Linked DNA regions of Homo sapiens: regions 1 and 3 are each linked to region 2. Evidence: fine-mapped expression QTL. A gene starts in region 2. Each other region holds a variant in brackets. All regions are shown on one strand. Distances are between the middles of the regions.

Region 1 (2,711 bases), 50 kb before region 2:
GCACTTTGGGAGGCGGAGGCGGGAGGATCACCTGAGGTCAGGAGTTCGAGACCAGCCTGGCCAACATGGTGAAACCCCGTCTCCACTAAAAATACAAAAATTAGTTGGGCGTGGTGGCAGGCGCCTGTAAGCCCACCTCTTTGGGAGGCTGAGCCATGAGAATCGCCTGAACCCAGGAGGTGGAGGTTGCAGTGAGCCTAGATTGTGCCATTGCACTCCAGCCTGGGTGTCAAGAGTGAAACTCCACCTCAAAAAAAAAAAAAAAAAAAAAGACCCTTCCTAAGAACAGCACTGTAACTCATGAGTTATTACTCAAATGCATCTGTCCATCTACCCACCAACTCAGGTCCTCTCCATACACTCCTGTAAGTCACCGGGCTACCGGGAGACTGCATGGGAACAACCACGCTCGCGCAGCCTGTCCCGCAGCCATCGCTCCTCCCACAGCTCCTGGCTGCCCACGGCGCTTCCCTGTAGCAAACCCAGCTGCTGACGTCATAAAAGGCACACAGCCGGACCTGTCTGTGCTCATCTAGTTCCATTTACAACAGACTCATCCACAAAACCGAAGTGGTAGAAACAGGTCTTTTTGAAGCCAGGCGTGGTGGCTCATGCCTGTAATCCCAACACTTTGGGAAGCTTAGGCAGGAGTATCGCTTGAGCCCAGGAGTTCGAGAACAGCCTGGCCAACATGGTGAAACTCTGTCTCTACAAAAAAAACTTTAAAAAGTAGCTGGGGGTGGTGGTGTGTGCCTGTGTGGTCCCAGTTACTCGGGAGGCTGAGGTGAGCGGATCACTTGAGCCCAGGAAGTTGAGCCACAATGGCACCACGGCACTCCAGCCTGGGTGACAGGGCGAGATCCTGTCTGAAAAGAAAAAAAAAAAGAAAAGAGAAGAAAAGAAAAGAAAACAGGTCTTCCTGGGAGCACCTAGACAAAGGCCTTTGTAAAGATAAATTACCGAGGAATATTTCTAGTTGCCTGTTTTCTTCAAAATCACAGTCAAGTAAGCTGGGCGTGGTGGCTCACCTCTGTAATCCCAGCATTTTGGGAGGCCGAGGTGGGCAGATCACCTGAGGTCAGGAGTTTGAGACCAGCCTGCCCAACATGGTCAAAACCCCATCTCTACTAAAAATACAAAAATTAGCCAGGTGTGGTGGCACACGCCTGTAATCCCAGCTACTTGGGAGCCTGAGGTGGGAGAAATACTACCCAGGAGGCAGAGGTTGCAGTGAGCCAAGATTGTGCCAGTGCACTCCAGCCTGGGCGACAGAGCAAAACTCTGTCTCGGGAAAAAAAAAAAAAATCGCAGTCAAGTAAAAAGAAACGCAACTAAAAGAGCCGTCAGTTAAATACATTCCTCTCTCGTGGCAGGACGAGTCTATAAGATTTGTTTTGTTTTTAATTTAGTGTAAAGTTTTTTTAATGTTTAAACCTTGTGACACATCAAATTACATGCTTGAAGCTGTTACTTTCTGTCAAAAAAGTGAGTTTTTAATATGAAAATTCTGCTTAGGTTAAAAATTAAAAAAAAAAGAGCGAGTTTTATACATCCGCATGAATTGTTTCCTTTAGCACTAGTCAAACAGACTCCATAACCTTCCAAAGAAGTGCCTTCGTTTATTTACAGGGCTTAGGAAAGGAAAAAAGCTCTACAAAAGGGAAATTTCAAAATAGGGCTTCAGCAGGGGCCCAGGTGGAGTGAGTAGTTTTGATAAGGTCCAGGTGGGACTCACTTCCAGGTGGTGAGGACCGCTCTCCC[C/T]GAGTCTCTCGATCGGCCTGCTCTGGGCCCCAGAGACTGACCCTGACGGCTTCTCAGCTCCCGGTCAGCCCCGTCACCCTGGGCCAATTCTTCATCATACCTGGAGACAGAAACAGCCAGGATCACGGCAGGCTCTCTTTCAAAGGCAACAGGCAGGGCCACCAGGCTGCTGTGTGGCAAATATGACATCACCCAGAGAAGCGGCCTGAGGGGGCCCCACCCTCGCGACTCCTGCTGGCTCCCGCCCACCTCCCACCTGGCTCCAGCCCACCTGCCTGCCAGGTGGCTCTCGCAGCCCAGCAAATGCTCCCCAAGGCCAGCCTGCCTATGTGTACAACCTTGTTGTTATTGTGGACAGTGGTCTCCCCTCGGAAGCTGACATTTTATACAGGTCACCAGGTCAAATATGGCAATGACTCCAAAGGCAACATGCATGAGGTGACACAGAACCAGCCCAGGGTAAGTGAGGTGAGACTGCCTGGCTGGAAACGCTTCACACAAGGCACCTGCAGGCTGGGGGGACTAACTCCATTCCAGATGGGAGTGGTACATGAGCACTGGTCAGTGGAGGCCAGGGCAGAGAGGCCCCACGGTGCACACTCAGCTAGAGACTCTGCCAGTGTGACCCACGCCACCCCTCCCCATTTTCTTTTTTTTTGAGATGGAGTTTCACTCTATCACCAAGGCTGGTATACAGTGGCGCAATCTTGGCTCACTACAACCTCCACCTCCCTGGTTCAAGCGATTCTCCTGCCTCAGCCTTTCAGGTAGCTGGGATCATAGGTGCCCACCACCACACCCAGCAAATTTTTGTATTTTTAGTAGAGACAGGGTTTCCCCATGTTGGCCAGGCTGGTCTCGAACTCCTGACCTCAGGTGATCTGCCCATTCGGCCTCCCAAAGTGCTGGGATGACAGGCGTGGGCCACCGTGCCTGGCCCCCATTTTCTT
Region 2 (2,755 bases):
CAAGCTATCTGGGAGGCTGAGGTGGGAGGATTGCTTGAACCCGGGAGGCAGAGGTTGCAGTGAGCCAAGATCGCACCACTGCACACTCCAGCCTGGGTGACAGAGTGAGACGGTCTCAAAAAAAAAAAAAAAAAACCAAGAATATGGCCAGGCACAGTGGCTCACGCTTGTAATCCCAGCACTTTGGGAGGCCGAGGTGGGCGGATCACCTGAGGTCAGGAGCTCGAGACCAGCCTGGCCAACATGGCGAAACCCCATCTCTACTAAAATTTAAAAAATTAGCGGGGCATGGTGGCGCGTGCCTGTAATCACAGCTACATGGGAGGCTGAGGCAGGAGAATCGCTTGAACCCAGGAGGCAGAGGTTGCAGTGAGCCGAGAGCGACCGCACTCCAGCCTGGGCAACAAAGCAAGACTCCGTCTAAAAATAAATAAATAAATAAATAAAGTAATAACAATGTCAGTGATGACTTCATGTTGAGCAGGGCATTCGTTCACAGCGGTATTGTCACTGTCCATCTCCACGCCCGCACTGGGTGACAGTACCATGCTCCACAGTGACTGCTTACCAGTGTCTGTAATTTGAGGGCAGAGAAGGGCCCATCTTTTTTTTTTTTTTTTTTTTTTTTTTTTTTGAGACAGAATCTCGCTCTGTCGCCCAGGCTGGAGTGCAGTGGCGCAATCTCGGCTCACTGCAAGCTCCGCCTCCCGGGTTCACGCCATTCTCCTGCCTCAGCCTCCCGAGTAGCTGGGACTACAGGCCCCCGCCACCATGCCCGGCTAATTTTTTTTTTTTTGTATTTTTAGTATAGACGGGGTTTCACCGTGTTAGCCAGGATGGTCTCGATCTCCTGACCTCGTGATCCTCCCGCCTCGGCCTCCCAAAGTGCTGGGATTACAGGCGTGAGCCACCGTGCCCGGCCGGGGCCCATCTTTTTGTACCGCCACAACCCGGCACCATAATGTGCTCATCAAACGTTTCCTGAGCAAAGAACCTGCTTTGCAAATGCCAAAAGGGCTAACAATGATAAGATACTTTCACTTCCAGAATTAATCTCCTCTAATGCCCCAGCTACTCTATGGAAAAGGATGACTACCCCGCCCTGCCCTCTTAGCTGATAGGGAATCAGAGAGGGGAAATGTCTTGGTCCAGTCATCTAGAGGGAAGACACAAGGCTCTTGTCTCCTGCCCTGAGTTCTCTCCACAGGTACATTGCGCCCTGCAAAAGATGCCAACAGAAACAACACAGATTGCAAACGAATGGGAAACGTGTAGGAACAATGAAAGTCTGGGATAACAAATAATAAACATAATGATGCAATTGCAACAGTCGGACAGCACGAGGTAAGTCATAGGAACTCAGCGGACGGAGAAAGGCACGGTGGTTAGCGCGGGCTTCCTGGAGGACGCGGATCCGGCAAGCAGCATCTGAACCGCATTTTCGCAGCCGCGTAGACACTGGCGCCCACACTCTCTCACCCATGCGCACTCGCCAGCCCGCGCGCAGCCACACCCTCGGTGCCCGGGAGGCGGCGGCCTGGGGGACAGGACCTCACCTGTGGGCTCAGAGCGCCGAGGGACTCGGAGGAGCGCCCTGCAGGGATGCCTCGAGCCGCGCCCTCGCCCCGCCTCCAGCCCCTCTCCGGCGCTCGCAGGAGTACGCAGCCGACTGCCAGGCGCACCGGCCCGCCCCGCCCCGCGCTGCACTCTACTTCCAGGGCGGCGCCCTGGCAACCCAGGACGCGACCGCCGGCGCTGCGACTATTTCCGGAGTCAGACTTGCCTGGGGCTCCTTTGGGCTCCATACCTCGGGCGGCCGCTATGCCCAGGGCTTGGATCCTAGGAAATGCCAGGCCGTCCACCCTCTCGGGGCCCAGAAAGGAGATTGAGAAGGGTCTGGAGCACGGGATTAAGTCTAAAAAGAAAGGTAGAGCGGTGTGATGATTAGGTCCGAATCCTGGGTTCGGTCTCAATCCGCTGTTTAGCCTCTCCTACCCCTTCTACCTCGGCTTCCTTATCTGAAGAAATGGTGATGTTGCGCCACTGCACTCCAGCCTGGGCGATAGAGCGAGACTCCATCTCAAATAATAATAATAATAATAACATAAAAATAAAATAATTTTTTTTAAAAAGTGTTTATCTGGGCCAGACTCGGTGGCTCACGCCTGTAATCCCAGCACTTTGGGAGGCAGAGGCGGGTGGGTCGCGAGGTCAGGAGATCGAGACCATCCTGGCTAGGCTGAGGCAAGAGAATCGCTTGAACCCGGGAGACAGAGGTTGCAGTGAGCCAAGATCGTGCCACTGCACTCAAGCCTGGGCGACAGAACAAGACTCCGCCTCAAAAAAAAAAAAAAAAGACGTTTATTATTCTCGTTATAGACCTGTGTTACCTCGAATTCTCTATACAATTATTCATTTTTAATTTCATCAATTTAAAGAGTTATGCAAACTTGTGCAACTTGTAAGTGACAGAGTCTGGCTTTGAACCCAGGACACCTGACCATTCATGCTGCTGCCTCTCAGGAGGGGTGGTGGTGTGCTTTCTTAGTGATGATTGGAGCTTTGCTAACATCACTTCCTATAATCTCCCACACAACCGCCTCCCAGGCCCAGAGCACATTCAGCGCATCATCATTTACTTTTGGCACCATCTAGTGGAACCAACACTTATCTGGAGTCCAAATTGCCAATTCATACCCTTCAGCTGCTGTCTGGTTGTGAGGCCTTGAGAAGTCCCAAGGCTTCCGACTACAGT
Region 3 (2,755 bases), 56 kb before region 2:
CAAAGGCCCTGAGGCAGGGAGGGGCATGACGCTTGAAGATTGCTGTGTCTCCAGCAAAACCAGCAAGGGCAGAAGGGAGGGGGTGGAGGGGGAGGCCAGAGAGGCGAGGAACTTGATTTTATTTATGTTCCAGGGGAGGCTTTTGGAGGGCATTAGGGCTCTGATAGAATCTGATTTATGCTTTAAAATGCAAGAGAGGCTGGGCGTGGTGACTCATGCCTGTAATCCCAGCACTTCAGGAGGCTGAGATGGGAGGATCCCTGGAGCCCAGGAGTTCCAGACCACCCTATGCAACATAACAAGACCCCCATCTCTAATATTTTTTAAAATAATAATAAAATGTAAGAGAAAGGAGAGACCATTGGAGACTAGAGTCACCAGGAAAGGCTTTATAGAAGAGGCAATGATGCCTTCTACCACAGAATTAGAGAGGAGTCATGATTTCCTATGAGCAGTACAAAAATCACCCCTTTAAAAATGCGGCTGGGCATAGTGGCCCCTGCCTGTAATCCTTTGGGGGGCCAAGGTGGGCGGATCATGTGAGCCCAGGAGTTTTTCTTTTTTTTTTTTTTTTTTGAGATGGAGTCTCGCTCTGTCACCCAGGCTGGAGTGCAGTGGCGTGATCTCAGCTCACTGCAAGCTCTGCCTCCCGGGTTCACACCATTCTCCTGCCTCAGCCTCCCAAGTAGCTGGGACTACAGGCGCCTGCCACCATACCCGGCTAATTTTTTGTATTTTTAGTAGAGACGGGGTTTCACCGTGTTAGCCAGGATGGTCTTGATTTCATGATCCATCTGCCTCGGCCTCCCAAAGTGCTGGGATTACAGGCGTGAGCCACCGCACCCAGCCGTGCCCAGGAGTTTGAAACCAGCCTGGGCAACATGGCAAAACCCCATCTCTACAAAAAATACAAAAAATTAGCTGGGCATGGTGGCACATGCCTGTAGTTCTAGCTGCTCAGGAGGCTGAAGTGGGAGGATCGCCTGAGCCTGGGAGGTTGAGGCTGTAGGGAGCTGTGATTGTGCCACTGCACTCCAGCCTAGGTGATGGAGTAAGACCCTGTCTCAAGAAAAAAATAAATAAATAAATCAAAACAGTTTCTCCCAGGAAGGCATACGAATGGCCAATAAGCACATGAAAAGATACTCAACATCATCAGCTGTCAGAAAAAATGCAAATCAAAACCATAATGAGATACTACTTCAGGGGAGCAGTGGTTCACGTTTGTAATCCCAGCACTTTGGGAGGCCAAGGCAGGCCAATTGCTTGAGGCCAAGAGTTCAAGACCAGCCTGGGTAACATGGTGAGACCCTGTCGCTACAAAAAAATAAAAAATTAGCAGCCAGGCACGGTGGCTCATGCCTGTAATCCCAGCACCCTGGGAGGCCGAGGCAGGTGGAGCAC[A/G]AGGTCAGGAGTTTGAGACCAGCCTGGCCAACATAGTGAAACCCTGTCACTACTAAAAATACAAAAGTTAGCCGCACGTGGTGGCATGTGCCTGTAATCTCAACTACTTAGGAGGCTGAGGTGGGAGAATCGACTGAACCCAGAAGGCAGAAGTTGCAGTGAGCCGAGACCACACCACTGCACTCCAGCCTGGGTGACAGAATGAGACTCTGTTTCAAAAAACAAAATAAAATAAAATAAATAAAAATCAGCAGGGTGTGGTAGCATGCACCTGTAATCCCAGCTGCTTGGGAGGCTGAGGTGGGAGGATCACCCCAGGAGGTCAAGGCTGCAGTGAGCTGTGATCATACCACTGCGCTCCAGCCTGGATGACAGAGCCAGACCCTGTCTCAAAAAAAAAAGAGCTATCAGGCTGGACGTGGTGGCTCACGCCTGTAATCCCAGCACTTTGGGAGGCCAAGGTGGGTGGACCACCAGGTCAGGAGTTCAAGACCAGCCTGGCCAAGATGGTGAAACCCCATCTCTACTAAAAATACAAAAATTAGCTGGGCATGGTGGCGGGCGCCTGTAATCCCAGCTGAGACAGGAGAATCACTGGAACCTGGGAGGTGGAGGTTGCAGTGAACCAAGATTACGCCATTGCACTCCAGCCTGGGCAACAGAGCAAGACTCCGTCCCAAAAAAACAAAAAGTTCTGATTTCATTTTAACCAGTACAAGATGCAGGAAGGGAAGCTGCCTGGTGACGTTCTTGCTATTCAGCCATGGCCTCGAGGCAGCATTATTCATAACCATGAGTAGCGTGGCCTTTCTGAACAGCTTCTGAAAAGCACGTTTGTTACTGCAGCTTTGCAGTTTACCTCCTTCTACATTCAGGGCTCAAACCCCGTTTAACACACGCCCCCTACTGGGCCACTGAGAACTGCTCGTCTCTGCAGATCCCCTTCCACCCGGTGTGCAGGCTCCCTGTGCACAACTCCCCTCCTCCCGTCCCTAGGGCACCGCCTGAGTTCACATTGTGGCCTGCACTGCCAGATCTCCCTCTAGCCTCTCACCAGCTCCGTCATCCTTAGAGAGGCACATCTCTAAGAACACTGATGCCATCACTCAAAAACATTTGGCTGGAAGCCGGGCACGGTAGCTCATGCCTGTAATCCCAGCACTTTGGGAGATGGAGGCTGGCGGATCACTTGAGGTCTGGAGTTCAAGACCAGCCTGGCCAACATAGTGAAACCCCATCTCTACTAAAAATACAAAACTAGGCCAGGCACGGTGGCTGATGCCTGTAATCCCGGCACTTTGGGAGGCTGAGGCAGGCGGATCACAAGGTCAGGAGATCAAGACTATCCTGG

Direction of the effects. Positions count from the first base shown, and alleles are read on the strand shown. Sizes are in standard deviations (SD) of each study's normalised expression. Not every link is listed here.
In carriers of allele T in region 1, the expression in cerebellar hemisphere of the gene that starts at base 1,671 in region 2 tends to be lower than with C alone (moderate effect, 0.49 SD a copy in GTEx).

The links. PIP is the estimated chance that this variant, and not a neighbour inherited with it, causes the effect.
Region 1: its variant is fine-mapped to the expression of TTLL1 in cerebellar hemisphere (GTEx, PIP above 0.99). The same link has a PIP of 0.9 or more in anterior cingulate cortex, cerebellum, cerebral cortex, hypothalamus, nucleus accumbens and prefrontal cortex.
Region 3: its variant is fine-mapped to the expression of TTLL1 in whole blood (INTERVAL, PIP 0.97).

Annotation. Positions count from the first base shown.
Region 1 is chr22:43,038,045-43,040,755 of GRCh38, forward strand. It overlaps TTLL1 (TTL family tubulin polyglutamylase complex subunit L1), which reads right to left. Exons shown (of 11, transcript NM_012263.5): 11 at 1,472-1,861. The coding sequence ends at 1,732. It overlaps TTLL1-AS1 (TTLL1 antisense RNA 1), which reads left to right and starts at 541. Exons shown (of 3, transcript NR_125362.1): 1 at 541-2,220. The variant C/T (reference allele first, on the strand shown) is at 1,762.
Region 2 is chr22:43,087,721-43,090,475 of GRCh38, forward strand. It overlaps TTLL1 (TTL family tubulin polyglutamylase complex subunit L1), which reads right to left and starts at 1,671. Exons shown (of 11, transcript NM_012263.5): 1 at 1,557-1,671. RefSeq lists silencers at 1,439-1,778, 1,543-1,837, 2,586-2,645 and an enhancer at 1,543-1,837.
Region 3 is chr22:43,031,740-43,034,494 of GRCh38, forward strand. No RefSeq gene overlaps it. Among named protein-coding and RNA genes, the nearest start is that of TTLL1-AS1, 5.5 kb to the right of the region's middle. RefSeq lists an enhancer at 2,308-2,755. The variant A/G (reference allele first, on the strand shown) is at 1,405.